2 separate regions of the Homo sapiens genome follow, and region 1 is linked to region 2. The links come from fine-mapping of genetic effects on gene expression. A gene starts in region 2. The other region holds a variant in brackets. All regions are shown on one strand. Distances are from middle to middle.

Region 1 (12,084 bases), 39 kb before region 2:
ACTGAGGAAGTGCTCTGTGTGGCAGAGTCCAAAGGTCAGGTACCCAAGGTCTGCCACTCTCCAGCTGGTGACCAGAGCAGGCATCCTCTCTATGGACCAGTGTCCCTCCTGTGTGACGTGAAGGTGAAGGGCTGGTTGATGTCCAGGGTGCCATCCAGCTCAGAGAAGTCAGCTTCAGGACAAATGGTGACACACTTATTCTAGGTGCCCAGGAAACCAGAACCATCAGAGACCTTCTGGGAGGAAATTTTCACCCCATCAAGACCTTATTCTGACTATCTAATTTCCAATTCCCTTCCCCTACCTAGTCTACTGCATTTTCACATGACTGGCATCCCTAGTTAGGAAACTCCCTTGCCCATGGACTAGTCCAGCTGTGATCCTCAGCCAAGGCCAGAGAAGTCCCAGTCCATTTTTGAAAACACCCCCTTGGTGATGAAGCCTTGGAGGTGCCTGATCCCACATGCCCACCTGCCCCCATCACAGCTTCCTGCTGTCGCAGCTTCCTGCTTTCTCTGTCCTAACTTTACCTTTATTCAGTTCCAGCAGCTTGCATTAAGCCCCTACTCTGGACTGTGGCCTTCTGAGGTTTCCACCATCTGGGGTTGGGGAATGAGAGGGAAGGCAGAGACAGAAATAATTCTAATGCCGTTCAGAATATGACCAGTCTCATACAAAGAGGTGCCCCGGAGCTCAGCAGCAAGGGAAGGATGGCTTCCAGTTGGAGATCTCAAGAAAGGCTTTTTTTTTTTTTTTTTTTTTTTGAGATGGAGTCTCGCTCTGTGGCCCAGGCTTGGAGTGCAGTGGCGCGATCTCCGCTCACTGCAACCTCCACTTCCCGGGTTTCAAGCAATTCTCCTGCCTTAGCCTCCTGAGTAGCTGGGACCACAGGCGTGTGCCACCATGCCCAGCTGATTTTTTTATATTTTTAGTAGAGACAGGATTTTGCCATGTTGGCCAGGCTGGTCTCAAACTCCTGACCTCAGGTGATCCGCCCGCCTCAGCCTCTCAAAGTGCTGGGATTACAGGCATGAGCCACTGTGCCCAGCTTAGAAAGGCTTTATGAAGAGATTTATCCACTTGAGATAGGGCTTGACCAGAAAATGCTTTGGTAGAGGTGCAGAGAGGGATGATAGAGGAGAAGGGCTTCTGAAAATGCAGGAATGTTCAGCCTGTTCATGAGATCTCTGATGTTCACGGTTAGCTAGAGCTGGACACAGGTAGTAGTAGTGGCTGATAAGCACTGGGCAGTGGGCTGTGGCTGTATTATGGAAGAGCCAGGCTTCCTGTATAGGAACAGGTGCTCAAACAGAAAGCAGTGGGGCCAGGCGCAGTGGCTCATGCCTGTAATCCCAACACTTACGGAGGCCAAGGCAGGCAGATCACTTGAGGTCAGGAGTTCGAGACCAGCCTGGCCAACAGAGTGAAACCCTGTCTCCACTAAAACTATAAAAATTAGTCAGGCATGGCGGCGCATGTCTGTAATCTACTCAGGAGCCTGGAGCATGCCTGTAAGCTACTCGGGAGGCTGAGGCAGGAGAATCAGTTGAACCCGGGAGGTGGAGGTTGCAGTGAGCCAAAATTGGGCCACTGCACTCCTGGAGACAGAGTGAGACTCTGAAAACAAAAACAAAAAGAAGAAGAAGAAGAAGGTGGGGGCTGCAGGGAAGACGTTCTAGCAAGGAGCTATTGAGGGACCATTCTTCCTCATTCTTCTGGGACAACCTCTTTCCACAGGTGCCCTCTCTCTGCTTCTTGGGACCACTCTTACTAAAGAATTCACACATATTTTTGCTGCTGCCACAGAGAAATTCCCCACTCCTCCCTCGGCCTGCCCTCTGTGCTTCCTCCATCTTTCTACAGGAAGACAGAGACTCATTCTCTGTGCCCTGTTTGGCTCCTTCTGGTAAAATGGAATATTTCTTTCATTGCTACCAGGAAGTTCTACCTATATGTGTCTGCTCCTATCTGATTCATTTACACCAACATGGCACAATCAGGGGCAATGTGGACACACACACTCCTACCCCATCTCTAGGGGACATTTAGCAATATCTGGAGACATTTTGGGTTGTCCTGGGGTAGGGGGGAGTAAAGACTGGGTAAAGACCAGGGATCTGGTAAACTTCCTACAATACACAGGATGACCCGCCACAACAAAGAATTACTCAGCCCAAAAATGTCAACAGGGCTGAGGTTGAAAAACACTGATTTAAACCAGGTTGAGGCCCTCGGCCGAAGCCCATTGGTACCTGAAAATCCAACTTTGCAGAGATTAATGCCTTAGGAGTTCCTGAGCTGTCTGCTAGATCTCAACAGGGTTCCCGGCCTCGGTTTCCAGTCTCTCTGATTCTAAATGGAGTCCCCTCAAGGGTTCCATTGCTCTTGGCTTCAGGAAATTACCAGCTTCATACAGATTCACTTGCTCCCAGAGCCTCCTTAGGCCAAGGTCAACCAAACACAACCCAATACTCTTGAGCTGAGCTTGCCTTCACTTCTGATCCTTCCTGCCTTTGTTTTCTTCAATCTTCTCGCTCAGGGACCTTTTTTTTTTTTTTGAGACGAGTCTCACTCTGTCGTCAGGCTGGAGTGCAGTGGCACAATCTCGGCTCACCACAACCTCCGCCTCACAGGTTCAAGTGATTCTCCTGCCTCAGCCTCCTGAGTACCTGGGACTACAGGCGTGCACCACCATGCCCAGCTAATTTTTGTATTTTTAGTAGAGACAGGTTTTCACCATGTTGGTTGGCCAGGATGGTCTCAATCTCTTGACCTCATGATCTGCCCGCCTCAGCCTCCCAAAGTGCTGGGATTATAGGCGTGAGCCACCGCACCAGGCCACTGGGGGACTTTTTAATTCATTATTTCAAAGCCTGTATAATTATCTGACTCCCTATTGTTTTCTGGGATCATGAAAATAATGAGCCCCAAACTGGAATTTAGTCCTTCCGATGCCCCCAGCCAGCTGTGTGACCCTGGGAAAGTAACTTAATTTCGCTAAACCTCAGTGTTCTGAGGAAAGGTCATCATTAAGGTATTTTTAGGCTCTAGAAGCCCTAAACTATGTCCTGTCATTTCAGAGTTCATGTTGGGTCTGGCTTTGTGTGGCCCAAAGCCCCCCATTTTTTTTTAAGACAGAGTCTCGCTCTGTCGCCCAGGCTGGAGTGCAGTGGCACGATCTCGGCTCACTGAAAGCTCCACCTCCAAGGTTCACGCCATTCTCCTGCCGAGTAGCTGGGACTACAGGCACCCACCACCACGCCCGGCTAATTTTTTGTATTTTTAGTAGAGACGGGGTTTCACCATGTCAGCCAGGATGGTCTCAATCTCCTGACCTCGTGATCTGCCCGCCTCAGCCTCCCAAAGTGCTGGGATTACAGGCGTGACCGAAGCCCTTTTTATCTGCATAGGTCTGCTCTAAACCTTCCGCTGGGGCAGGAGCTCCTGCGCTTGCCAGTCCCACACTCACCCACCTGTGACACACTGGCGATGAAAGCAGTCTCCTCAGGTGAACACATTTTATGTTGCAGTCACAGTATGAGCTTCAGATTGTCTTTTAAAAATACTTTTCCTTCTTCCATCCTAAAACAAAAATCACATTTAATGAGCACATTAAATTAATTAATCTAGAGAAAGATTCAGTCACCTGTTTAACCCAACCAATTGGGGTTTGGGAGATAGTCTGTGGTTGCCATTGCCATGAGTTTGAGACAAATGTTAGTTTTCTGAACAGCTGTTATGTTCTCAGGGAAAATTATCTGCCAAATGCAAAGGTTCTTATAAAAGTCAAGTCAACCCCCAAACTCCCCTCCCACAGTGCGGGAGGGCAGGCTTTGGGGGAAGGGGTAAGCTACTCTGAGATGGTAGCAGGCTCTGGGCCATGGTAAAGCCTTCGAAGAAGCTCCAAATCTTCAGGAAGCTGACCTGAAGATGAATGCGTGGGGAACATGGATTTTTGAGGTGTAGGAGTAGGGGGTATGTGGAAGCCAGTGACAGAGCTGAGCGTCACATCCAGGGTATCTTAGAGCAAAACAGGTAGCTCACATGGACCCAGGAACACGCCAGCAGAGAGGTGTCTGAAGGCAGCGCTCAGGTCGCAGAAGCATGAGGATCTGGCTGTCACCAGCCCCGTAGCCAGGGCTGTGAGGACCAGGGCAGCCGCTGTCCCCTGCCTAGCCTGGCAGCCTGGGATGAAGGAGGACACCAGGCTGGTGTCTGCAGAGAAGACTGTCCCTTGAAGCCCTGCCATAGGAGCCACCCTGGCTTTTATGACCTCACAGGAGGTGTGGGTCACTGTTCTCTGTGGGGCCTGGGTCCAGCTGGAGGCCCAAGCCAGGCTCCTAGGGCAGAGGGCAAACGGCCCCTCCAGGAGGGAGCCGGGAGATTACGCAGCTCCATGTAGGTCCACGTTTAGGTTGGGAGGATCTACCATGAAGAAGGTCAAGAAGAAAAGGTCAGAGGCCAGACGCCACCGAGACTCCACCTCCCAGCATGCTAGCTCCAATTCCACCTCTCAGCAGCCTAGCCCTGAATCCACACCACAGCAGCCTAGTCCTGAATCCACACCACAGCAGCCTAGCCCTGAATCCACACCACAGCATTCCAGCCTTGAAACCACCTCCCGGCAGCCAGCATTCCAAGCCCTTCCAGCACCCGAAATCCGCCGCTCCTCTTGCTGCCTTTTATCTCCAGATGCTAACGTGAAGGCAGCCCCTCAATCCAGGAAAGCAGGTGGGCTGTCTTCTAGCTTCAGCAGTTCCAGCCTTCCTGCTGATGGAGTTCTGGGTCATCCCAAAGGCTGGTTCTTGTAGGATAGTGATGCATGGTTAACGTGTATCCTGGAGCTGTGCTGTAGAGTGGGAAGGTTTTTGTTTTTGTTTCTACCCAAGAGACCAGGATTCCTGGGTTTTGTCATTTCTCATCATCCTGAGTCTCACTGAAGACAGCCACACATACATATAAACATTTAACTTGGTTCCATAGTAATACTTGCTCACTAGGAATCAGCAGTGCCATGCAACTGCTAAAAAATAAAAACCAAGGATGCATTTATAGAAGTATATGGTTTAGAATAAGGGAGGTGATGATACTGCTTTATTCTGTCCTCATCAAGCTATCCTTTTGGGCTGTAAAAGATGCCTGACAAACTAGTCCAAGGAAGATAGTCTGGGTTGATGGAGGATGAGAAGGATCAGGGAGACCATTTAGTGTATGACAGTCAATTGAAGGAATTGGAGGATGTCTGTCTGTCAAGTGGAAGATGTGAATAGACTTGTTCCTTATTGTCCTCAGAGATCTAAGGGTCTGATGTGGTTTGGCTGTGTCCCCACCCAAATCTCTTCTTGAATTCCCAGGTGTTGTAGGAAGGACCCAGTGGGAAGTGATTGAATCACGGGGGAGGGTCTTTTCCGTGGTGTTCTCGTGATAGTGAATAAGTTTCATGAGATCTAATGGTTTTAAAAAAGGGAGTTTCCCTGCACAAACTCTCTTCTCTTGTCTGCCGCCATGTGAGATGTGCCTTTCACCTTCCACCATGATTGTGAGGCCTCCCCAGCCACGTGGAACTGTAAGTTCCACAAACCTCTTTCTTTTGTAAATTGCCTAGTCTCAGATATGTCTTTATCAGCAGTGTGAAAACAGACAAATACAGGCCCATGGATAGGATAGCCAGACAAAATACAAGACTCTCAGTTAAATTTTAATTTTAGTAAACAACAAATAATATTTTTAGTATGTGTGTCCCCAGTATTGCATGGGCATCCTATATTTTTATTTGCTAAATTAGCAATCTTACCCATGGAAGACATTAGTGACAGAAAGCCTTCGGCTCAACATAAAAAACTTCCCAACAATTAGCTCTGTCTGAAAATGGAATGGCTGTCAGGAAAAGTGGTTCCCTGTCTTCTTGGGAGCCAAACAGTGTCTGTATAAGCATTGGATTGTGTAGAGGGAATTCAAGTGGAGTTCAGGAGGTGGGCTGGTTTATACTACTAACAATAATGGTGATAGCAAACTAACATTATCACTAAGCATTTACTGTGTACCTAGCATTCAGATCAGGTGTCTTAATTTTCACACGTGATAATCCTATAAAAGTTCTTCCATATTATCTCCATTTTATAGATGGGGAAACTGAGGCTCATAGGAGTCAAACAGGTTGCTCCTGAGCAGACGCTGGTAGCCCTGAGAAGGGAAACCCACTCTATTCTGACTCCAGAACCCTCACTTTAAACCACAGCACTGACCTTTCCATTCCAAGAGGCCTAGGAGTCTCCACAAGAGGAAGAACATCTCTGTCCGAGCATCTCCTGGATCTGCCATGAGCCAGTGCCCACGACTCCATAGCCTTGAACAGGCCACACTCCCTGGGCCACAGTTTACCCCCCGGGATTGTGTGGGCATAAAATAAATAAGTGATGGAGATGAGAGTGCTAAATATAAGGCATGCCATGCCAATGATCCTTCCATGGCCAGGAATCAAACCTTTCTTGACATATGATATTGATTTTGAGCACCATACTATATGTTGTAAAGATTGTGATCATCAGCCAGTGAGAGAAACATTTCTGGGTTATGATCTTCAGAACTGGCATCTTCAGTACTGGTAGAAAGCAAGACTTTCCATTCCCAAGTCTTTTAATGAACACATGTGACTCATACTCAGAGAAGAATTTGGCCCATTGAACAGGCAAAGCAAGAAAGCAAGAAATGGTGGTGGCTCGCCAGTGGTTACAGCAGACACCCTATACTTCTTCCAAAGGAATTCTCTGCGTAGAAAGGAATGTTGGAGATGAAGGATGAGGGCCTGCAAGTAAAGCGTGCCATTTTCTAAAATCCAAGCCTTTTTGTGTGCAGAAATATTGTAGCTCAAGAAAATGCCAGTCTTCCACTAGGATGGGTATAATCAGAAGGATGGACAATAACAAGTGTTGGTGAGGATGTAGAGAAGCTGGAATCCTCATACACTGTAGGCGGGAATGTAAAATGGTGCAGCTGCTGTGGAAACAGTCTGGTGGTTCCTCAGAGGAACATGAAGTTACCTTATGACCCAGCAATTCCACTTCTCAGTATACATCCAAGAGAATTCGAAGCATCTTATTAAGCATATTAGAAGCACACCAAAACTTGTACACAAATGCTCAAAGCAGCAGCATTTGTAATAGCCAAAAAGTGGGAACAACCCAAATGTCCATCAGCTGATGAATGGATAAACAAAATGTGGTATGAAATACCACAGTACAATGAGTATGGTGAAATACTATTTGGCAATAAAAAGAGATAGTGTCCTGATACATGGTACAGCCTGGATGAACCTTATAGACACTTGGCTAAGTGAAAGAATCCAGTCTCCCAGAAACCCACACATCGAATGATTCTATTTACATGAAATGTTCAGAATAGGCAAATGTATTGCCAGGGACTGGGGGAAATGGGAGAGTGGGGAGTAACTGCTCATGGAGATGGGGTTTCTTTTTGGGGAAATGAAGACGTTCTGAAATTAGTGGTGATGGCCACAAAACTTTGTGAATATACTAAAAACCACTGAGCACTCTAAAAGGGTGAATTTTATTGCCTGGGAATGATATCTCAATTTAAAAACTTTTTTGTAATTAAAAAAAAAGACAAGTCTTGCCTTTAGAATCCCCTCTCCTCATTCCGGGAAAGTACGTGTCGTGGGCAAGTCTAAGCAGAAAGTGTATTGAATCTGCCAGGTTGACCACCTGTTTCATGCAGCTTAGGGTCAGAAGAATCTGTAGCTCTGTCAAGAAGACGCAGGGCTACAGATAGGAAACAGGAGGGAATAATCCAGCCAGAAATTATCTTGCCCAACCACAGAGGGCATCATCTACATTCTGCTGGGATCCATACCAGAGGAGGACAGAAACAGAAAATAGGATCGGGACTGGAAACTAGAGCTGTGGTTGTCTTCTGGATGGATCAGAATGCTCTAGATCAATGGAACGTGGCAGCTCCAATTCCAGGAATGTCAGTGCAGCCTCTCCTGAGGTGAGCAGTCACCTGAAATTCCATTTTCACTGAATTAAACGTGAGAAAGCCTGAGTTGAGAAAGCCAACTTCTGTAATCTACTCCCCAAAAGGGCATATCCCTTAAATTAGCTGAGCCTCAGTTTCCTTATTTGTAAAACAAGACCAGCAGTATCCCCTTTACAGGATTACTGTGAAATTAAATGAGATGAGCATGCTAAGTGCAAAGCATCCTGAAGGTGTAAGCCATGGCACCATCAGCACCACCTCCATCATCATCATCGTTGTTGTCGTCGCTGTTGCTACTCCCAGGTAGCACCAGTATAAAACAGCCATTTTCCCATGCGGTCAGTCTTCTCTTCTGTTTGGTTAGAGAACATTTTGTGGGAGAACTGCCTTCCTTAGGTAGTTCAGTCCCAAATCCTCAATGATGCCTTGGAAAAAATCCAGCGTTCGCCCTGGTAATCCTGCAGCTGCTGCCGTTGTGGGGGGCCTTCTCAGACTGTGTTCCAGACTCCCCCGCCCCAGCCTCCCAGGGCAGGTGCCTCCCTCACCTCTCTCCTTCTGTCCCCACAGGGCCTCTGATTCGCGCCGGCCCGCATTCCTGCTCCTGTGCCACTTGCCCCTGCAGCTCCGCTT[G/C]CTGGCGTCGTCTGGGGCTATGCCATAGCCGCATCTTCGATGTCCTTCTGCCTCGGGACTGGCAGATGGCGCCAGGGAGAGGACTCCCCAACCTGCTCACCTTCTACAGGTTCCAAGCGCGAGGGGCTGGAGCCTCGGGGCACACAGTCCCCAGGGCCAGGCTCTGCCCCCAGACCTTATTAGCAATCATGTATCACTTCCTCTTGGGAATCCCAGGCCGAAGGAAAGCCTTTCTTTCCCTCTTTGCTTTGCCCACTTCCTGGACGTTGGCAGGCAGGGCCCTTTCTGACCGGCCCCACCCCCGGGGTACCCACCCCGCCTGTACAGAGAGGTGCCAGTTTTCTTCCTCACTGGGATTCCTCCTCAGGGGCTTCCTTTTTCTTTTCTCCAGAGATGCCCTCCCCTCCTCAGAACACTCTCCCCCTCAGCCCTTCACAGAGTCGCTCAGGAGCTTTGTGTTTAAACACTGTTTGGCCATGCACCTCCGTGGGCCCTCAGTGGCCTGTGTCATAGGCAGGGGCCTTAGGTTCCTGATCTGCCTACGAATGTCGCCCAGAATTTAATGATAAAAAACTACTTGTAACTCATATGCCTCCTCCACACAATAGCAAGACGTCAGCCCCCTTCAGACTGTGCTGGGCTCTTTCTGGGGGTCTCCACAGGGAACATCTGCCCCCAGGCTGGTCTGTTGGTGGCGGCCCCCATGACATCACCCATAGTATCTGTCCTTCCTTCCTCTTCCCAAAAAGCCACCAGGAGCAGTGTCATGGCTGCCACCGCCCTCATAGGAAGACCCCATCCATGCAGGGAACAGACTGGAGATGTTCCCACGTTTGGGCGCTGCTAGGTTACATGCATGGGCTGGGAGAGGGGTCGCCATCTGCCCCACCTGAGGGCCTCACAGATCTCAATGGAAGAGGCCCTTCCACTTGGCGACCTCACACCCCCACCCCAGGAACTGAGGCCCCCCAACCCCCATCCTTGTCCTGTTCCTCTTCCCAGCCTCTTCCCTACCCAATCCCCTCTCCTTTCTGGAGCTGAAAAACTCCATCTCTCCTACACATGGAGATAAGTAAATAGATACCGGGGCGTGTGGGGAGAACACGCTTGGAGCCAAAAATACTCCACCACCCAGTAAGCTCCGTCAAGGAAAGGTCTGCCTGCCACCGTTAGCCACACCCTGCCCACACGCTTAGTACTTCCATCCATCCATGGCCAAATCGTGCCATGGGTTCATATCGTTTTAAAACCAGCAAGTGTTATTGAGGGAAACTTACTATGCAGAGGACATGGGGCACTGTGAGGGAAACCAGAACAGGGAACTTTACCCCTAAAATTGTTGCAGTCGACATGGAGAGCTAAGACCCATGCATTTAGAAACCAAGATGCAAGATGCAAAGAGCCTTGTGTCCTCTAGGAGAGGCTCCAACAGGAACCTCTGAAAGGTTCCAACAGGAACAGGCTCCAACAGGAACCTCTGAAAGGTTCCTGTCAACAGCATGTGAGCCGAGTCCAGAAGGATCTTGAAGTCCTCTCTGGCTTAAGATGAAAAGCGGGAGCAATCTGGGTGCAGGAAAAGGCAAGCGTGAGGCTCAGAATCAGGAAAGTGAGCAGGGAGAGACAGGGTCCATATCTGGCCAGGGCAAGACATGTAGTTTTAATTCTGCTCCAATTTTAGCACTGGCATGCTTTTCTCAATGGAGTGTAATGTTGGCTCTTGGCTTTCAATCCACATTCACATTAAACAAGAATCCCTATTTTTGTAGGATTTTTATCAAAACGGGTATTGCATTTTTTGAATGCCCTCCTCACAATTATTGCCTTAGTCATGTTTTCCTTGCCTTTGTGTGGGTGTAATATATTATTTCCCAAGTTCCTTTCTCTCAATGGAGTGAAGTGATAGAACTTACCTCATAGGGTTGTTGTGAGGCTGGAAGAAGACACTGGGTGTGAGGTATTTAGCACAAGGCCTGGCTCACAGCAGACTTGACCACCTTCCTAACCTGGTCCCCTTCTGAGTGTTCAGGGCAGCTAGCATCCCAGGCCAGCTCACCCTCCGATCCTCAGGGGTCTTTCAGTAGGGACTTGTTGGAAGGATGGGAAGAATTAAATGCTCTCCTAAGAGGAGTTTGGAGAGGGGGAAGATGGGTATTCCTGCAATCCTGAGGGGGCCACATAATTTCCACTTTCTCCTGTTCGTAGAGAGGCACTGAAGCCCAGCTTCCCACCACCCCCACTTCTGCTTTGCTCTACAGAAAATCTTCAAGAAAACCCTCCAGTCATCGTAACGCGTGTCCTCCAAGCCCTCGGAACTGTGGCTGTGGCTCTGGGGGCTCTAGGAGCTGCCTACTACATCACTGAATCCTTGTGAACAAGCCCCTAGGCCCACAGTCTGGCAGGTATGTTGAGCGCTCTGTCCCTTCGAATGGAGGTGGTCTCTTCAGGTGGACCAAGCCCCGGCCTCTCAAGGGAAGCTTGCCAGTGGAGTGACTCCCTCCTGGCCTCAGGGTCAGCCGGCATGGCCCTCTAGGGAAGACCTGATGCTCTCAGATGACGCTAGACTCATTATTACAATCATCTAAACAGAGCCCCCACCTCCTCTGCCCCGGGATGGTGTCCCTGGTCATGGACCCTGGACAAGAGGAAATGGGAGGGATGGGGGCAAAGGTTTCTACCCATCTCGGACCTTTCTTGGAACTTTCTCCCTGCCTGGAAAGCTTGTCTCCTACCCAGTCCTACCAGTCCATCACCCATAAAGCCCCCTTCTTCCATGAAACCTTTCTCCATCTTCCCAACTTCAATGACGTCTTCCATCTTCTCAACCCCTGTCCTCTCCACCTGTGCCTCCTGTGTTGTGGATGATCCTGTCGTTTGCCTGTGGCCTGTCTCCCATCTGTCCTGCAAGACCCCTGAGGGCAAGGGGCATGGCTCATGCAGCCATCTTCCCTCATCCCTGGAAGCAGAGCCTGAGACTGGGGTTGAATGGACAGGTTTATTGAGGAGGTGCTCTCAGGGAGTGAGGGAGTGAGGGAGGCAAGAAGAGGCAAGGGAAGGAGCTGAGAGGCAGGAGGCCAGACCTCAGCTTGACCCTGTGGGAGCCCTGGAACAAGAATGATGACACAGAGTTAGTCTCAGCAGAGGGGAGAGACTTGCCCTCTGGTGCTCCTCCTTGTCAGTGCTTTGGCTCTGAGTGTTGGGTAGGGACTGCATGTCTTTGTGGAAAGAGCAGCTCCCTTTGGGCTGAGGGTGCTTCCCTAGAGGAGGGGCAGCTCTGAGCTATTAGCAGCACATTCACAACTCACAGGAGTTGGGCAGTGGATGCACCAGCCCAAAAAGGGGATAATCGTCTGTTTTCCTTGCCTTTGCAGTGGGCGTAATATATTATTTCCCAAGGTTCCTCTCTCCCAGTGGAGTGAAATGATAGAACCTACCTTGTAGGGTTATTGTGAGGCTTGAAGA
Region 2 (12,455 bases):
CCTTTGTCAGAAGCCATCCTGTTACCAGTAGCTTGGATTTCCTTCTAAAGGCAATCTATTATTTGACCTATTTTAAATATTTTATTTAATAATTTATGTCCTATCTCAATATAAAACAATTTAAGGAAGATGTTGGGTTATACAATTTGAAGGGCAGAATTCCTCTCAAAGCAGTGAAAACTGACAACACCAAAGAAGTAAGGTGTTCACTGAGCTTTTCCAAATATCGTTAACAATTCATAGAAAGATACTAATTCTTTTGGCCTTTCCCTCATGGTAGCAAGATGGCTGCCATAGCTCCAAATATCAAGTCTTCACACAACATTCTGTGAAGCAAGGAAGGTGATGGCCCCAAAAGGGCCTGTCAACTTCCCTAGTCAGGGAAGGAAATCTTTCCTGGAAATCTCTCCTTGTCTTGGACTGGCTAGAAGTGAGCAGCATGCCCACCTCAAGACCAATCACTAGCAATGAAGAACAGTTGGCTTCATCTATTCACGCTTCAACCCCTGAGGCTGGGTCCATTGCTTTTACACCAAAATCAGGGCTCAGTAAGCATGAGTGGCCAATGAGCAGAAAACCAACAGTGTCTGCCACAGCCAGTACCTTTGTCCTGTCACTGTCTAAACCTGAAAACCAATCTAAACTAAGTTGTTAATCAGGCCATGGAAATAAATCAACCTTGGAAGAGAATGATGATAGCATACCTTCTAGACCTGTGCTGTCCAATATGGGAGCCACTAGCCACACGTGCCATTTAAACTTAACTTTACATTACTTAAAATTAAACAAAACTTTAAATGCAGTTCCTCAGTCACACAAGCCACATCTCAGCTGTTCAATAGCCTCATGTGACTAGTGGCTACTGTACTGGATAGCACAGATTTAGAACAATTTCTTCATTGCAGAAAGCTCTACTGGCAACCACTGCCTGTCCATCTGCCGCTACCACTGATAAGAGGCTTCTCTAAAGTGGTGAAGCGAGAGTTTCTCTAAAGTGGTGAGGTGGTGCCACCTTAGTGTCATTAGCAACACCGCCATCATCTTTGTCCAGTGCAACCTGAAATTGGTAAGCTGAACATCCTCTAGCCAGTGATCACAGAAGCTCCCTGTCCTGCAGAGTCACGTCAGGGTCAGTCACAGAGCTCTGACAAGATCTGGTGCAGAGGAACCTCATGTTTCCATGCACTCACTGAGCCCATCTTCCTGACCGGGTTCTTGATCCACCCCTCTGGGAAAGAGAGGCACTGGCCAGGAGCTGGCTTGGGCAACTAAGGTTATCATAAGATTATTTTAATGGTCACCTTGTTCTATATCAGGCACCTCATGAACGATGATCATGAAGTCACCCACTGCCCATTGCCCCAACACTTGCACACTTCCTATTTTTTCATCAGCCGGGGACCGAGGAGCTGCAGAAAGTGAACAGAATGAGACATACAGGTACAGGGGCAGGGCGTCTGTGGTGGGCACCGGCCCTCATGCCCACCCCACAGATACAGCTCACATTGTATTTGATAGTCTATAAAAGGGCACCTGCTCTGAGACTTGGGGGAGGAATAAGGTTGCCTCCAGTAATAACTGCTCTTTGCTCCACTTTAACCTCAATGGGCCTGACAGTTGAGGTGCCAGCTTGGGTGCAGTTGGTGCAGCCCTGTCCTGGGGGAGGGAAAGGCCAACCAGGGTCCCATTCAACTCTTAGAGACCATGGTTTCTTCCTGGCCAATTTTGGCTGGTGCCATTCTCCCAGGAGGGGACCTTGGGAGACTTACACTGAAGCTCTAACTTGATCTGGCCCAGTAGATTTGAAAGGAGGCCCAAATTGAGTGGCTTCGAAGTCACCATATGTCCTTGCTGCACAAATGAGCTGCTGTTCTCCTCCTCACCCCTACTGGGGCCTCAGATGCTCACAGATCCCCACGAAGTCACCTTGCAGCTGTGGCCACCAAGGTGACAGGTGTAGACACTCTCCCCACAGTTATGTGCCAGGTGTTGGCTGACGGAGGACTGCCCCCACTGTGATGCCCTCAGCCAGTACAGGTGTGTCCTGGGGGCCTGCCTGCCCCTCCTCCTGGCACCACTGACTAGTCCAGGGCTCAGCAGGAGCATGATAGGCACTGAAGCCTGGTCTCTGCCCGTCAGCATTTCCTGCAGGCTTCTTCAATCCCATTTATTCCTAGTGTTCCATTATTGGAACGCTAAGCATGTGGGAGTTATTTATTTCCTGCTGCTCAAGGTCATTGCCAAGGTCTGATTTTTCACACATGTCTGCAATTCAAAAAATTGCAACCTCCTGCATAAGTGGGTTAACAAACCTTCACCAGACCCCTAAAGTTCAGGCGAAATTGAGATATTTGACCCCCATAAGAACACCAGCTGGCACAGAGATCTGCATTCCTGGTGCCCTCATGGGAACCAGCCTGGGCCTGGCAGAGGAGGAAACGAAGTCCCAGCACACCAGCGAGCAGGCCTGCTCCACCTCAGGGGCACCCAGCACTTGTTAGACCCAGTTTCAAGTTTCCAGCCCCTCTTCCCACCTCAGCCTCTTTCCTCCGTGGGTCCTGGGGGCTCCTCCAATTTCCTTTCCCTCTGAGGTCTTCCTCATGTTAAAGATCTTCCTCCCTCCACCCAGCTCCCCAGGAAGCCAGAAAGTCTCCCCAGGTCCAGCCTTCCTTTTAGCCCCCAAATCAAACATCTTAGGGAAAAAGCGGAAAAGTACAGGGAGAGAAGAGAGGAAGGAAAGGAAAGAAGAGAGAAAGGGGGAGGTGGGGAGAGGGGAAGCGGGGAAAGGAAGAAAGAAGGAGAGGAGAATAGGGTGACAGAGTGTGAGTAAAGAGGGAAAAGGAGCTGGCAAGCAACTAGAGGGAGATTACTCCTTGTTTTCCAAACCAACACTTTCTGGTCACTTTTTTTTTTTTTTTTTTTTTTTTGAGACAAGTCCTTGATCTCTCACCCAGGCTGGAGTGCAGTGGCACAATCACGGCTCACTGCAGCCTCGACCTCTCGGGCTCAAGCCATCCACCCACCCCAACCTCCCAAGGAGTAACTGTGACTAGATACACACTGCCATACCCAACTAGCTGTTTGATTTTTGTTTGTTTGTTTATTTAGGGATGGGGTCTCGCTATGATGCCCAGGCTGGTCTAAAACTCCTGGGCTCAAGAAATCCTTCCACCTCAGTTTCCCAAAGTACCGGGATTACAGGTGTGAGCCACCACACCAGTCTCTTATCACTTGATTCCCACCAAATTCTGTTTAAATGAACATGAAGAGGTAAAGTATTTCAAAAATCCCAGTTTACTTTATATCTTCATTGAACACCAGAGAAAGAAGAAGTCCATTAATTTTATGATGTTTTTCTAAGGTGCGGTGGGAGAGGAGGAAGAAATATTCTTGGCATCTTGCCTTTTTTTAAAAAAAAAAAAAAGATCTTTGCAGTTTCCTGTTAATTTAATACCAGAACCTTTGCTGTGTAAATAACACAGATAAAGATAAACTTTACTGGCCCTGGACTCCAACCTTCGTTTAACATTCCACCCCCCTCTGATCCATCCCGCATCCCGCCTATGGAAATTTGTAATTAGTTGTGGAGATTTAGAGGCTGAGAATATATAGTTCAGGAGGCAGAGCATGTTGGTTTTAGACAAGCCTTGTAAGAATGTGCTAAAAATCCCAGTATACCTGACAGTGCTTCTCTAGAACTTGTCTTTCTCTCTTCCTCAGAGGTGACCTGGATGGGGTTAATTCCCTTTCTGGTCAACTTGTAGGTTTCACCCTGGCTCTGCCACCCACCCTCCCAGTTTATTATACCCACTTAGGCTGTGCTTTGCTGGCATGGCCTTGCACTGTTATTTAGACAAGTGATTTAATCCCTCTTACTTGCTATTATTGAGCACTCTTAGTTCCTCTTTTTTTTTTTTTTTTTTTAAGATAGTCTCACTCTGTCACCCAGGCTGGAGTACACTGGTATAATCTTGGCTCACCGCAACCTCCGTCTCCTGGGTTCAAGCGAGTCTCCTGCCTCAGCCTCCCAAGTAGCTGGGATTACAGGCACACACCACCATGCCCAGCTAATTTTTGTATTTTTATTGGAGACGGGGTTTCACCATTTTGGCCAGGCTGGTCTTGAACTCCTGACTTCAGATGATCTGCCAGCCTCAGTCTACAAAGTGCTGGGGTAACAGGAGTGAGCCACCATGCCCAGCCAGATTTAGTTCCCTTTTTGATAGGGCACTTCCTCCAATAGTGTTTTCAAAGAGGGGCTATATGTGATACGCCTTCTGATTCTTTATATACCTGATAATTTAGCTAGAAATCCAAATCTAGGGTCAAAGTTATTTTTCTTTGATACTTTAAAACAATTTTTCCATTTTTTCTTAAACCCAATGTTGTTGCTAAGAAATCTGAAGTCAACCAGATTTTTGTTCCTTCCTCAGTCCTTCTACTACCCAGCTTCTGGGAATACAGGTGTGATGGCCCAAGCTTTAGCAGCCAATTTGGATTATGAAGATGTCAGAGGGCAATAGTGACTTGGTATGAAATCTGAGTCTTCAAACACCTAGTAAAGCAGAACTATTATACTATTTCAGCCATAAACTGTCCATCCCCAAACGTCTACAAAAGAGAAAAAGAAATTTTCATTGTTATTAGTGTTGTCTGTGTTATTAAGAAATGAATCTTAATTCATATATCCATTAAACCTGCTTTGTTTTATACTTTCCAGAAGCCTAACTGTTTTTTATTTTTTATTTTATTTTATTCATTTATTTATTTTTTGAGACAGAGTTTCGCTCTTGATGCCCAGGCTGGAGTGCAATGGCACGATCTCAGCTCACCAAAACCTCCACCTCCTGGGTTCAAGCCATTCTCCTGCCTTAGCCTCCCAAGTAGCTGGGACTACAGGCATGCACCACCATGCCTGGCTAATTTTGTATTTTTAGTAGAGACTGGGTTTCTCCATGTTGGTCAGGCTGGCCTCCAATCCCCGACCTCAGGTGATCCACCTGCCTTGGCCTCCCAAAGTGCTGGGATTACAGACACAAGCCACAGCGCCCGGCCCCAGAAGTCTAATTATTTTTCCCAGTGAATTCATGTTTCCCTAGATATCAGCTACTTTGGTTGGCGATAGGTACACCTGGAAGAGACTAAAACCTAGGCTCTTCCTATATATCCCACCTGGGAGCTTAAGGAATGGGGGTGTGATGGGACTTGCCTCTGGCATCAAATGTGAATGTAGCCACTCCCCATGTGCCACCCTCACACACACCAGACACCCCACTCAGGGAGCTTCTGGGCACTCTCCCCTGGCCAATCCTCTTTCATGAGGCAGGTCTCGTGGTTGGAATTCCTGACCCATGAAGTGGGAAGAAGAGGCTGCCGGGTCTGGTTTTTCTGTGCTGCTAGCCCCAGCCTGATATGCCATCCCTGGCTAGCACAGCTGTTTTCTGCCTCCCAGCAGTGCTGGGGAGATGGGGTTGAGAAATGGTCTACTCAGGCCAATGCAAGCAAAGAAAAGAGCACAAGTGTATAGCGTTCACTCAGCCTATCCCCCTTCTATGGCACTGAGGGGAGGAGGCGACAGGCCTTCCCTGGTTTTACATTGGTTTCTCAGAGTCCTTACCAACTCCCCTCTTGCTTCTGCGGCGTCTTTAGGGTACTATTCAGAGAAAGGTGCCAGCCCTTTAAGTACATTATCATCTTGTCACTTTCTGCTTTAATTTTACATTTCATTACAAATTACGTGAAATGTAATACTCAGTTCTTCAGTTGCACTCGCCAGATTTCAGGTACTCAATAATAGTCACATATGGTGCAGACAATAAAAAAGTTTTCCATCATCACAGAATGTTCTATTGGACAAGGCTGACCTAGATCCTTAGAAGGAAGGGAAATGCATTCCTGCTTCTGACCTGGCTGGCCCCTTGCTCCCCACGCAGATCAGAGCACCATCCGTGTCCTGCATCTGGCCCCCTAGACTTTCTGCTTTACGGAAACAGTCTGGGTTTCAACCCCAGCGCCTGGGGTGGTACAATAAGTATTTGTGGAAATAATGGACCCTCGGTCAGTTTTTGCTAAATGTTGAAGCCCAAAAGGAAAGCTGGGTGGCAGAAATAACCCCTGCGTGTTCTCTTTTATCTCACCTTCCTACCCACTTCTGCGCCCTCCGCCCCCTACCCCCCTACCTCCCACCCCACCTCGGCAAGACCCCAAACTGTGCAGGACTCTGCTCCAGGTCTCCAAACGATCTTATCTAGTGAGGGGATAATTGTCTGTCTTCCCAACCTCGGCTGCCCAGCGCCTGCACATAGTAGGTGCGCAGTAAGTATGTGTGGGATGGACGAACAAATGAATGAATGAATGACTCTCTGTTTCCCCGCGTCTGCGCAGGGACTTCGGGAGGAGCCACCCTTGGAGGGCTGAGGAGAAAGCCCTCTTCCTCCCACCCGGGCCCGCGATGCGGGCTGCGCCCAGGGGCGCGTGCACACAGAGGCCCCGCCCGGGGGCCCGGGGGTCCGGCTGGGCTCGGCCCTCGGGGGCGTGTCCTCTGTGCCGGGGCGCCACCGCCCCGAGAGGCGGGCAGCGGGTGCGCCCGGGCCGCGGCGGCCGCAGAGGGCGGGCGGCGGCCAGCATGGAGCGCGAGCTGGAGGCGCTGGCGGCCCGGCTTGCGCGCCCTGCCGAGCCGCCCTTCCAGGCGTTGGTGGAAGCGGCGGGGGGCCGCGGGCAGGTGCTGCTGGTGGGCGAGCTGTGGGAGCGCGAACAGAGCCGCGCGCTGCTGCGGGACTTCGCACGGGCGGTGTTCCCGCCGGAGCCAGGCGCGGCCAAGCCGGGCGGCGCGGCGGCAGAGGGCGCGGGGCCCGGGGCGGCGCGCGGGGCGCAGAGGGCGGCGAGGGCGGCTGGGGCGGCGGGGGCGGCGGCGGCGGCGGCGCGCGCCATCCGCTCGCCGCTGGTCTTCGTGCTGTGCCGCGCGTCGTCGCTGGCCGCCCGGGAGCCGCGGCGCCGCCTGCGGGAGATGCTGCGGGACGTGCGCGGCCGGCGGCGGGCCGGGGCGGCGCTGGTCGGGGTGCTGGTGGCCGAGGCCGGGCCAGAGGACGCGGTGGCGCCGGGGCTGCGGCTGCTGGAGGCGCTGTTGCGCGCCGTGTTCGGCCGCCAGGCGGGGGGGCCCGTGCAGGCGGCCGCCTACTGCCCCGGCCTCCCGGCCTCCTGCCTGGCCGTCCAGGCGGCCGCCTGCAGGGCCCTGCAAGCCGCCGGAGCCGGGCAACCAGGTGAGACTGCGCGGGGCCCGGCTGGGCGCGGGCGGGCGGTGGCTCGGGCACGTCCCCCAAGTTGGACCCCTTTGGCCATTCCCTTATTGAGCACCGAGGTAAACTGAGGCTCAGAGCAGGGAGGTGCCTAGAGCCAGGCCTCGCAGCTAGCGGAGAGCGGGCCGTGCGTAGCGGATCGAGTCTGTCCCGGAAGGGTCCGGAGTGCACGGGAGATGCCTAGGGGGCGTGGGAAAGCTGAGGGGCCGAGTAGAAGGCAGAGGGAGTGGGTAGAGAGAAGGGATGAATCGGGCAAGGCCGAGATCTAGGAGTTACGGGGTGGGTGGGGGTGGGGAGAGAAGAGGAGTGGGGAAGGAAATGGGAAAGCCTTGGGATGGGAAAGTTTCAAGGGGGTGGATGGGTGCTAAGGAGATTGGCGGTGCCAGAAGCTAAATTCTAGGGCGCTGCGCAGCCAGAGATGCGTCGGGAGCTCTAGGAGGGGCGGAGGGGCATCTCCAGCGCGGTGGAGGCTCGTCCTGGAAGCCCTGCCTGGTTTTAGGAAGAGGGCAAGGAATGGGTGCTCGGGACTTGACGTGTGGGGAGGTGAGAGGGACTAAGAGTACATTTTCTATTGATTTCTGGCCACCCACCAAGGCTGTGCACCCAACTGCTGTGTCCCTCAGCCTCCCCCAGGTCTGCTGAGGCCACCTTTTCCCTCCACATTCTCCTGAAAGGTGGAAGGGATTTAAGGGTCTTTTCCCAGCCCCCGTGACTGCTGCCATCAGCAGAAGGGTCAGGATCTCCTTCCTCCTGGAACACAAGGCTTTACAGGAACTCTCCAATGTTCTAGGATGAAAATATGCACATTAAGAGTAGCTGCATCTGGCTATCGCAAGGACAAAAAACCAAACACAGCATGTTCTCACTCGTAGGTGGGAATTGAATAATGAGAACACATGGACACAGGAAGGGGAACATCACACACCAGGGACTGTTGTGGCGTAGGGGGAGGGAGGAGGGATAGCATTAGGAGATATACCTAATGCTAAATGACGAGTTAATGGGTGCAGCACACTAACATGGCATATGTATACATATGTAACAAACCCGCACGTTGTGCACATGTACCCTAAAACTTAAAGTATTAAAAAAAAAAAAAAAAAAGAGTAGCTGCATCTGGCAAACCCGGGAGATCTTTGCACTCTCCAGCTCCCAGCTTTCTCTCCCTGCCCAGCTGGGCAGCCCTTCAAGCCCTCCAGCCCCTTCCTCTTAAGTAGATAATGAAGAAAGTGGCTGTATTGTGTGTCTCCTGGAGTATTGGCGTTGGTTGGGGGGCGGAGGGTCCCAGCAAGGAGACCTGTCACCTGTGATGCTGCCAATGTCACATTCACCTGCCAGCCTGGCCTGCCTGGGCGAGCGCGCCTGCCCTAACCCTCCTCCCTTAGGGTGCAATCCATTTTTTTGTTGAGGCTGTGATTGTTCTGATTTTTGTTTCAACCCCTTTGCTGACCAGGCCTCCAATAGAAAGAAGGGAATTCACACACATTTTCTATACCCTAATGAGTGCATGCATTTTTTTTTTTTTTAGATGAAGTCTCTCTTTGTTGCCCAGGCTGGAGTGCAATGATGCGATCTCTGCTCACTGCAACCTCTGCCTCCCAGTCTCAAGCAATTCTTCTGCCTCAGCCTCCCAAGTAGCTAGGACTACAGGCGTCTGCCACCACACCCAGCTAATTTTTGTTTTTTTGGTAGAGACGGGGTTTCGCCATATTGACCAGGCTAGTCTCGAACTCCTGACCTCAAGTGATCCACCCACTTTGGCCTCCCAAAGTGCTGGGATTACAGGCATGAACTACCACGCCCTGTCCCTCCTAAGCTTTTTGTAGACACATTGCTGTTGCCTGAGCCTGAAGAGCCTTTTCTCCTCCCTCCTCCTCACCTGGCCAATCCCATTTGTGCATTCAGAACTGGACTTCCTCCTCCGGGAAGCCTCCCTTGACCTTCCCTGCTCCCACTTGCAAGTTCACTGGCGAAATCCCAGAACCCTTTATCCCTTTGCTCTCTGAGCTCTTACCACATGATTTCGTTCCCTTGTGAACATGATTTTGTTCCCTTGTGGGTTTAAACACCATCTGCAGTCCCATTTCCTGATACCCTGCCTGGCATGCAGACAGAGTGAATGAATCCTCCCTTCCTTTTAAATAAACACTAATACTTTTGAGATTTTAACACTTTGCAAGGGAATTGTTCTCTATGTTAAGCGCTTTCCTACTTTTATAAAAACATACTGAACAAAATTAAACCTCTCGCAAATGACTAAAGGTCGTGAGTGGAATTATAACTTATAGCCCACTGATTTCTTTGCAGCTTTTGCAGTGGGCAGAACTATTATCTTCACACCAAATGGATTCATGTCACTAAGATTTCGCTAGTGGTTGGATCTGTTTTTTTAAAGTTTTCCAATTTCTTTCCTCACCGTCTGATGATAATTCTTATTCTAGGTTGCTTGCCTTTTGGCAGTGCCCTTTTACCCAGTTCGTGGTACCTAATCCAGCTGCCTTTGGGTTGAAAAACTAAGGATACAGTCTCTTTACCTTTGGGTGCGGGTTAAGAGTAAATTGGTCCTGAATAAAGATTATGAACAAGGATTTTCCTTGTTTTGGTTGCCTGAAGTCTTTTAAAAATAAATAAATAAATAAAATAAACAACCTAGTTCCTGTTGACTTTATAGATTACTAAAAAATGTATCTATTCCTGCCAAGAAATAGTTTGAACTAAAATCAGAGGGAACGTGCAGCTCTTTGAGTATTTTGTTTGGTGCTATGTAATTGTAATTAATTTCATGTCATTTTCATTGCTTTATTTCCTCAACATGGTACCTACATCACAGGGCTTTTGTAAGAATTAAATGAGATAACATAGATAAAAGTAAAGCAATCATTTTTAAAGTTCGGTTTTAAAAACCCACCCACTTTTGCAAATCAGACTCTGTGTTTTTAATCAGACAGTTGAAACTAGGGCAGTTGACCGTTGGGGCACTTGATTTGCTAAACGAAATCTCTCAGTCTTGTGAAGTGGGAACCATGTGACCCTCTGACTCAGGTTTTGTGTTCTTCCTAGTGGAAGGAGCCTGGGAGAGGCCAGGCCTCCCCGGACTGCTAGCCTGCTTTTCCTGGGGTCCCTGGAGCCGGAGGAAGAACCAGGATGTTGCTGCCTGCAGAAGCTCAGCTCAGGGTGAGTGCTCCCCGACCTCCTGCATCCTGAGGGCCAGGTGCATGGAATTATGGGAGTGGTCACGTGAACTTGGGGACCTTAGGGACAGAGTGGACCAACATCTATGGAGTGCTTGCCATGTGCCAGGTGTGGGGATGAGCAATGTGAGGTGCCCATATGCCAGGCAGTGGGCACATGGGCTCGGTCAGGCTGGGCTCTTTCCCCAGGAGTCTCCACCTAATGAAGGCAGTATGGGGAGGGCTGTAACAAAGGTGTCTCCAGGAGCATGGTGGGGTGCATGGGACGTGCATGGGACCAAACACAGCAAGTCTCCCTGGAGGGTCCAGGGAGTATCCTAGAGCAAGTGATATTTGATCCGGGGATGGAGGGATTTTCGTAGGCAGAAATGGGAAGTTTTGGAAAAGGAGCACTGAGCTAAGGAGTGACAGCATGATGTCATGCTCAGAAAAGGGACCACCTTCGAGAGGCCCTGGGAGTGAGGTGCAGAAGGAAACCAGTGAGGGCCAAGGCTGAAGGGAAGAGTTTGGACCAAATCAGTGTCCCAGATGTGCAGCCTTCAGGAGTAGTGTGCCATGAGCGATTTCTGAGCAGAGAGATTGGGGTGTGTTTAGAGAGATGGACTCTAGGAGAGGGAGACACCTCGGCAGAGCCCACCTAGGAGGAGGCTGTCGTGTCCCAGGAGGGATAACAGGCGGCCTGGGCCCGACCTGGGCAGTGGGAATGGAGGGGAGAAAACTCACCCGGAGCCACTCCTAGGTGGAATCATCAGGCCACTAAATGGAAATGAGGGAGAAGGGGAAGGGGAAGACACCCCTCCATGTCAATGCTGATGTTAGAGAGATAGGAAGCGCACTGATCCCCCCCTTATCCACGTGAGATGCTTTAAGACACCTGTGGATGCCTAAAACCATGGGTAGCACCAAGCCCTACGTATACACTGTGTTTTTTACTGTACATATATACCTACGATAAAGCTTAATTTATAAACTAGGCACAGTTAAGACATTTAACAATATATAACAAAAGTTACAGGAATGAGGTATCTCTCTGAAAATATCTTATTGGACTGTACCGCAGGTAACTGAAACTGCGGATAGTGACGCCATGGATGGGGGTGGCTACAGTACTCGGAAGCATGGTGTAGCCTGCTGAATGCACACAGCCCATCCCAAAGTGCACTGAGAAGTATAGCTTTGTTACAGAAACAATGGATGGTGGTTCAAAATTAACTTTCATTGTGTCTCTCATTTAAGAAAGAAAACCATTAGTTGATGTGTCAGTCTTCATTGCTGCATAAGAAATGATCGCAAGTAGGTTGGGCATGGTGACTCATGCCTGTAATCCCAGCACTTTGGGAGGCCAAGGTGGGCAGATGACCTGAGGTCAGGAGTTCAAGCCCAGCCTGACCAACATGGTGAAACTCTATCTCTACTAAAAATACAAAATTAGCCGGGTGTGGTGGCACATGCCTGTAATCCCAGCTACTTGGGAGGCTGAGGCAGAAGAACTGCTTGGACCCCGGAGGTGGAGGTTGCAGTGAGCCAAGGTTGTGCCATTGCACTCCAGCCTAGGCAACAAGAGTGAAACTCCGTCTCAAAATAAATAAATAAATAAATAATCACAAGCTTAGCAGCTTCAAAGGCATTGATTAGGTGTCTGACTTCTTGCTGGCTGTCAGCTGGGGCTGCTCTCAGCTCCAAGAGGCCCCTGCCATTCCTTGCTCTCACAAGCCCTCTCACAAGAGATCCTCCTTCAATCAGCAGGAGAACCCCGCTCTCCAGTCTGCTAGGAGGGAGTCCACATAACCTAAGGAGTCAAGGTAGTCACTAGCCATTGCATTTGTCAGAGAGACAACCTACTCCCCAGAGTGACTAAGCTATCACATTCACAGAGCCCATCCAGACTCAAGGAAGGGCTTTATAAGGGGCCAGAATCTTGGGGGCTGTCTTAGAATTCTGCCTGTCATGTTTGAAAACTCAAAAAAAA

The links. PIP is the estimated chance that this variant, and not a neighbour inherited with it, causes the effect.
Region 1: its variant is fine-mapped to the expression of C2orf72 in testis (GTEx, PIP above 0.99).

What each region holds. Positions count from the first base shown.
Region 1 is chr2:230,991,804-231,003,887 of GRCh38, forward strand. SPATA3 (spermatogenesis associated 3) reads left to right here and starts at 4,318. Exons shown (of 5, transcript NM_139073.5): 1 at 4,318-4,731; 2 at 8,563-8,734; 3 at 10,881-11,024. The coding sequence starts at 4,431. The coding sequence ends at 10,986. It overlaps SPATA3-AS1 (SPATA3 antisense RNA 1), which reads right to left and starts at 4,229. Exons shown (of 6, transcript NR_033879.1): 1 at 4,045-4,229; 2 at 3,474-3,582; 3 at 531-599; 4 at 1-172. RefSeq lists an enhancer at 3,829-4,362. The variant G/C (reference allele first, on the strand shown) is at 8,626.
Region 2 is chr2:231,030,941-231,043,395 of GRCh38, forward strand. It overlaps C2orf72 (chromosome 2 open reading frame 72), which reads left to right and starts at 6,583. Exons shown (of 3, transcript NM_001144994.2): 1 at 6,583-7,259; 2 at 10,356-10,469. The coding sequence starts at 6,626.